2 linked regions of the Homo sapiens genome follow. The protein of the gene in region 2 purifies or fractionates together with the protein of the main gene of each other region. This does not show direct contact. Each region holds a gene or a part of one and is shown on either strand. Other genes may lie near its edges. The genes, in order: PDIA5 and COX16.

Region 1 (3,822 bases), on a different chromosome or scaffold from region 2:
TCCTACAACTATCAGATCAGAGTCTCTGGGGGATGGTGCTGGAAATTTGTGGTTTTTAAGAGCTGGCTCTTGTGCTGGCCACAGGCTGGTGTGTGGGGACTGTTGGCCTGTCCCCTCTCCCTTTACTCGTGAGGGATCCAGGCCCAGAGAGGAGCTGTGTCCCTTGTTCAGGAATGCCCAGCGGGTCACTGACAGCCAGAACTGGGTCTCCTGACACCCCAAGCTGCCACTTCTTAGCTGGAATTGTGGGGTTTTTCCACCCAGAAGCCAGCCCCTGTTCCTATCCCAATCAATATGCAGTTGGTTGTTCACTTCCATTTTCATAGCCAAAGTCAATATTAGCTCCTGCAGAGATTTATTTTACTGAATCAATAAAGCTGTGTGTGGCAGCTCATATTTTAGCAGGGGAGCCTCCACCCCCTCCCGGGAGCTTACTTGGGGACTTTATCGGTTGGCACACTGGTGGGGAAAGGAATGCAAAGTGTTAGTGTTGGAACAGATGGTGTTATTGAAGGGGCAAGGCAGACAGGACCTGTGGTGGGCTGGCAAGCAGGTGGGGGGCTCACCTTTCACTGCACGTCAAGGTGTGCAGGCTGGGGGTGGTGTGGGGCCAGGTGTGAAGGTCACCCTTAGAGGGAGGCCCTGAGGCAGTGGGGGCCCCACCTCTGCCATGGGCCCACTTCACTGCTGGAATCTGGCCATGACATGTAGGTCCTCCTGTTTATGAGGCTGGCTACTGCCTTTTCCAAGTGAAAGCTCCCTCAGGACAGAGACCTCATTTGTCCTTGAACTCCCCACAGTCATGACACCTTAGACCTGTGTAAATGTTGACTAGGTGAAGGAACAATATAACATATTTGATATTTACTGCGAGCTCTTCTTCCACTGAAAGCATTTCTTACATCATGTTGTCCTTACAATAGCTTGCTCAACTAGGTATTGTTACAGTGCTCATATTGCTGAAGAGGTGATTGAATCTTAGAGAGATCATATGCTAGTTTCTCAGCTGGAGAGGGGCAGAGTGAGAATCGCAAACAGGCATTGTCAGAGTTTGAGTTCTCCCAGAAGCAGACCCTGCTCCTGGGCTCATGTGCAGGGAATTTATTTGGGAAGTGATCTCAGGAAGTTCAGAGAGGACCCTGGAAGTGAGACACGAAAGGGGAGGAACCAAAGCAGGTGTTTTATGGGCAGATGACTGGATGAGTCACCAAGGCTCAGTCCCACAGGAGACCTCACCAGGAAACGTGACACAGAGCTGTTCCACTCAAAGGCCAAAGAAGCCAGGGTCCTTGTTCTAGACCCCCATCTGTCATTGGCCTTACGTCCAGCTCCTTGAGGCTGGGAGGATGCTCTGAGGCTGAGAGTAGCAGGTGCTGTGGCAAGGGCTGGTCTGAGGGGATGTGGCAGGACACCAGCAGCGTGTGCCCCAGGATTTGTACCAACCACCATAGAACAAATTGAGAAATCGTAGGTGTTCTGTGTTGCAGGTGATCAGTGCAAATCTTGAGTTGGGTGTAAGGGGACAGGCATTTAGGTGAAATTTCAATAGCTGAGAAGAGCTTTATTCGCTGCCTTCTTTCCAAAGAGTCTAAGCTGCTGCCTTTGGGGAGGACGCATTTGTCTCTTCTTCTGTGGAAAACGCGCGTGGATTCACCTTTGCAGCTAGAAGTTGCATTCCATGTGTGCGGCTGGCAGCTAGTTTAGGTGATTCAGAACAAGTATACATTTCTAATTTAGTAGATTTATAAAACCATACACTATATTTCCAATAGCTCCAGGGCATTGTATACAAATTAAATTCATAATTTAAAGCAGATGCAGGGAGAGCAGCAGCCCAGAGCCATGTTCATCCAGCACTTTCATGGCGGAGCAGCAGCTCCTGGCCCGGGCTGGGCATGGGGCCTCAGCCTCTGGCTGCAGGGAAGGAAAGTATGTGGATGCCCGTGTCCCTGGGCAGGGCCCCATAGCACCTGCCCTGAGAAATGGAACCCCACAATTTGGCCAGGGGAGCATCTGCCTCATGTTTTTAAATAATAAAGTGCGTTAGAGGTGGGCTGCGGTTATCAGAAGTGCATAGGGGCCAGTCTGCTGGCCTGGGTGAACTGGGCTCCAGGGGGTGCTGGGGAAGGTATGTTTAGCCTACCTGAAGGACAGCTGCCTCTCTGCCCAGCCAGTTGTCACCTGTGAGACTGCAGGGTAAGTGCCATCAAGTCTTCTGACTTTTAAAGAGAAGCTGGAAAGCCAAATTGTTGTATTAAATCTTCTGGCTCCATTTCTATGTTGGAGCTAATTCAGATTTATTTTTTTTGTTGTTGTTAAATTCAATGTGGGCCAAATAGAAGAGGACTGAGAGCCAGATACAGATTGCAGGCAGCAAGTTTGTAAACTCCATTTTAAAAGTCTCACCGTATAGAATGTTACATAGCTGAAGAGTAGAAGGGAAGCGTGAGGGTGAGGGGGGTGAAGGTGGCACCTGGTGGCCAGGGGAGGCCGCACCTCACTCTTCTCTTCAGCTATCCATCTGGCAGCTCACCTGGGCATGAGGGACATGATGAGTAAACGTGGCCATGGGGGCCCACAGGATTCTCCTACCTGGAAAGGGGCTTTGTCCAAATGCAAATAACCATCAACCAAAGAACTGTGTGAATCATGGTTATTCAATAATTTTAAATTATCTTATTGAATCACCCTCTTTTAATTTCTTCCAAGCATTCATTGAGCTCTATCTAAAATGATCTAATTTGTCATACAGCAGACGCTTGATAACTGGACTTTGTCAAGGTCGACGTTGTCCCCCAGCATCTAGAACAGGCTTGGCACACGGCAGGGTTTCAGTGTGTGTTGCCTGGTAGGAGGACTCATTCTCATGGGAATCTGCCCCATCTTCCATAACACCTCTGTACTGGGTATGGCCATTGAGGACCCCTTCTCGGGCTTCCCTGGTGCATGACCCTCAACCGGAAACAAGTTCCCCATTTCTGCTTTATACTGTCTTCCTTTGAAAAAACAACAAATGATGAGGAAAAGCTACCCAGCATGTGGAATTTGCTAGATGGTCAAGAAGAGGCCAGTGGCCAATGTGGGAACCACTTTCTGACCAAACATTCTGATGGCTTTACTCATGCGGGGCTCCTCCAGTTTCCAGATGTGCTTCCCTGGTCTCCTCCTCTTCCAGTCTTGGCTCAGATGGCGAATCATACAGAGCGCCTTTGCCCCACTCACCTGGCACCTGGACCACCTCCCTCATCCCTCACATCACATCATGTTGGAATTGTCCCTTTATCCAACCCCTGCCCAGACACTGAGCCCCTAAGTGGGGACAGAGCTTGTATATGGGGTTGGAAGAAGTGACTGTAATAGCAGCTGACATTTCCTGACCATGAATCTGGTGCCAGGTTCTGTGCTCACTGGCCTCACTGGAATTCTCTTATTCAGTCTTCACAATATCCTGATAGCCTAGATACTATTATTATCCCCATTTTACAGCTGAAAAAAATGAGGCACCAAGAGGCTGAGTTATTTTCCTTAAGTCTTACTGTCCAGGCAAACCAAGAGTGCACTTGGGGAACTTGACTTGAAAGCTCTTGCCCTTAACCTTGGCACTATACTGTCCCCCCAAGCTAATGTTCCGGAAATATTAGTGGAGAAATGATTAAATCCTACAGTCCCTTACAGATAGCACCACAGAACCTGTGGTGTTTACAAATGCTTTCAAGTCATCATTTCCTTTACGATCATCATACTCTTGATTTTAAAGGACAGTCTAAAGGCACTCCAGGCCGAGTCCCCTAACCTTACCCATCTGGAAATTGAAAACAAGCA
Region 2 (3,822 bases):
CATCCAGTCCGATACAGGCCCACCTTAATCAGCCAAATTATCCAAGGCGTCTCTACGTCCTTAAGAATAAAGTAGGTTCTCCACACACCCTACAGGCCTCAATCTTCAGGCAAAGTTGAAAAAATGAACTCTGTCCTTAAAGCCCAACTCACCAAGCTGGCTCTAAAAACCCAGCAGTTGTGGACAAAAAAAATCTCCCTTTTGCCCTCATAAGGCTCTGCGCAACACCAAAAGCACCCTCTTTTTATAGTCCCTTTGCAATCATGTATGGCTGAACTTTTGTCTTGGGGCCTCCACCCTTACCAGACTCTGAGCCCTTCAGGAATTACCTTCCCTCCTTAATCCAGACAGGGTCTTTCATTTGTGAAGCAGCAAATGAGGCCATGCCTCTCCCTGTCCACACCGCCTTGTCCTCTCAACATAACTGTCTTGCAGGCACAGATGTGTTTCCAGACAATCCAGATGATGCTCCTGATACAACGACATGGTGGACACCAGCCCGTCTCTCAAGAATACCCAAAAAATTAAGGTTTTCTTTTTCCAAGGTGCCCACGCCACCCCTATGTCACGCCTGAAGTAGTTATTGAGAAAGTCATCCCTTTTCCCTTTTCTATAACCAAATAGACAGGAATGTAAGATTCTCCCCGGGGCCTGAAAGCTTAAGGAGATGAAAGAAAAACTCTTCCCTTCTCAGGCCCAGTCCCAAGGCTCAAGGCTACTTGCGCCAGCAGGGTGCGCCAGGAAGATAGCAGAAGCAGGAAGAGAGCCGGCCGGAAGACACACCCCTGAAGACCCAGAAAGAGGCCAATCCAGTTACAACTTAGCAATTACGTCAGACTAGGACACTTCCTGTTTACAGGAGACTGTAAAACTTTCGTCCCGTCCTCACTTGGGGTTGACGCCATTTTAGGCCTCAGCCCGCCTGCACCCAGGCGCTCATTAAAACAGCATGTTGCTCCATACCGCCTCAGTGTTGTACATTGGCGCGCTCTCGGGGTTCAAACCAATACAAGAACCTTACAAATAGTCAGCTGGGTCACCTCTCACCTCATATTGAAGCAATACAGCAGTGACAGCTAACTAAGAGTTATCTTCTCCTATGCAAAGAAAACATATTTACAATACTGTCATTGCATTTATAAATGTATTCTCTAAAAACAACAACACACAAATGATTTTGTCCAACTTACACCTAACTATACGTGTTTAGTAGAATAACAATTTTAATGTTTAATATTTTACTTTCTGTTCTCCTATCATTTTCCCCTAATAAGAAATATAATTTGAGTACAATTAAAAATGAACAAACAATAGTTCATCCAATTCATTTGGTTAATTCATCTTTTTGTGCTTTTAGGTCAATTTGCTATCTTCAGTGCTGCAATGTATTACAAAGGTTTATGTTGTGGAACTTTGTTAATACCAAATGCTGTATCTCAAAGCAGCTAACTGAAAACTTCTATAGACTGGACTTCAAATATTTTTGCATCAGCCTAACTGTGGAATTTACACAACTCAGAAAAAGCAGACATACCTGACATTTTGCTGATTTAACAAAAGAAGAAAATAATATTTTCAAAAGCTTAGCCCTTCTACTAAATGACTGAAGCCATTCTTCAAGGGGGGATGAAAGGGGTAGGGAGCCCTCATTAGGGTAGTATTTTGCCTGAACTCAAAGGGTACAATTTCTATCTTATTTATGTCTTTCCCCCCAATATAACCACTGTTTCCAACTTATTGGTTGTCCTTCAAAAAATCATCAATCCATGTATAAGCACAGACATTTTAAACATACCACACTCTCCCTTTAATACAAACGGAGACATAATATGCATCGTGCTTACCATCTTGCACACTGCATTAATATTTTATTAATAAATACACACAAAAGTGTATATAAAGCATTAATTTAGAGATAATAATTGTAACATAAACTACAATGCATTAACTACCCAGTTTAACAAATAGAATACTGCCAACACATATACCCCTTGCAGATAAAAGGGTAACCTTCCTCTCTTTACCGTTAACACAAAAGCTAGATTTTATTGCATTCACTTCTTGATTTTCTTCTTTACTTTACCATCTATATATAATAACTAAATTCTATAATTAAGCCTTTTCTGTTTTTGAATTTTATTAAAACTATTCTTTGGTGTAACTTTTTTTAGTGAGAAATTATGTATTTTAGATTAAAGTATATTGTATGCAGCTATAGTTAATTTTCTTTGCTATATGGTATTCCATTATAAAAACAGAACACAGTTTATTTACTCATTCTCTTGTTTGATAGTTGAATGATTTCTGGAATAATGTCACAGCTTCAAGGTTTTGTTGGTATTCTTAATTTCAAAATTATAAAAGTTTATGTTTTATAGTGTTTTATACCTTTTAATATTTAATCATTTAATTGGTAATACAAGTATATTTATATAAAAAGGAAGGTAGGGATCAAACTTTATTTTTTTGCAAATGGCTAGAACTTTCAGCTTCAGAATGAGGGATTAAAGCTAATTAGATTTTTGGATGACATGATAAAGCAGCAATGACAATTTGGGGATCTTTTAAGATTACTGCATACTGGGAAGTGTGGTAAATTTCATGTGATTTCTTTTTTCTTTTGAAAAACCTGGCAATATTTATTTAAGAAGTGAAGATGTCATTTATTTGACCCAGGAATTGATACTTACGTGTAGTATATAATACTGGTCTGTACTTTTTTATTTATTTATTTATTTTTTGAGACCAAGTCTCCCTCTGTTGCCTGGGCTAGAGTGCAGAGGAGCGATCTCGGCTCACTGCAACCTCCGCTTCCCAGGTTCAAGCAATTCTCCTGCCTCAGCCTCCCGAGTAGCTGGGATTACAAGCATCCACTGCCATACCCAGCTAATTTTTGTATTTTCACTAGATACGGGGTTTCACCATGTTGCCCAGGCTGGTCTTGAACTCCTGGGCTCAAGTGATCCACCCGCCTCAGCCTCCCAAAGTGCTGGGATTACAGGCATGAGCCACCACACCCAGTGGAGATCTTTTTATATTTGTATGTGTGTCATACATATGATATTTTTATAACTACATGTTATATAATTATATATATGTAAACATAATGCATATTACATACATTATTTATGTGCACTACTCACTCATACATTTTCTAACACAAATATATTTCTTTTTTTTTCTTTTTTTTTTTTTTTTTTGAGACAGAGTCTCGCTCTGTCACTCAGGCTGGAGTGCAGTGGCGCGATCTCGGCTCACTGCAACCTCTGCCTCCCGGGTTCAAGAGATCCTCCTGCCTCAGCCTCCCAACTACATTTGTTTTTGTACACATATACTGGAGAAAAAATATCCAGTAATGGAATTTCTGGGTCAGATAAATGACATCTTCACTTCTTAAGTAAATACTGCCACTTTTTTCTAAAGAAAAAAAGAAATCTCATGAAATTTACCACACTTCTCAGTATGTGGTAACCTTAAAAGATCCCCAAGTTGTCATTGCTACTTTATCATGTCATCCAAAAATCTAATTAGTTTCATGCCTGTAATCCCAGCACTTTGGGAGGCCAAGGCGGGAGAATCACGAGGTCAGGAGTTCAAGACCAGCCTGGCCAATACGGTGAAACCCCATCTCTCCTAAAAATACATAAAGTAGCCGGGTGTGGTGGCACGCACCTGTAGTCCCAGCTGTTCGGGAGGCTGAGGCAGGAGAATCGCTTGAATCTGGGAGGTGGAGGTTGCAGTGAGCCAAGACTGCGCCACTGTACTCCAGCCTGGTGACAGAGTGAGACTCTGTCAAAAAAAAAAAAAGAAAGAAAAAGAAAA

What was found.
Region 1: the proteins of COX16 (region 2) and PDIA5 purify together in Homo sapiens (affinity purification with mass spectrometry; one large-scale study listed by BioGRID and IntAct). This does not show direct contact.

Annotation. Positions count from the first base shown.
Region 1 is NC_000003.12:123,157,324-123,161,145, forward strand, and holds part of PDIA5 (protein disulfide-isomerase A5 precursor), read left to right. Parts: intron 1-3,822.
Region 2 is NC_000014.9:70,349,464-70,353,285, forward strand, and holds part of COX16 (cytochrome c oxidase assembly protein COX16 homolog, mitochondrial isoform 1 precursor), read right to left. Parts: intron 961-3,822; exon of another isoform or gene 1-960.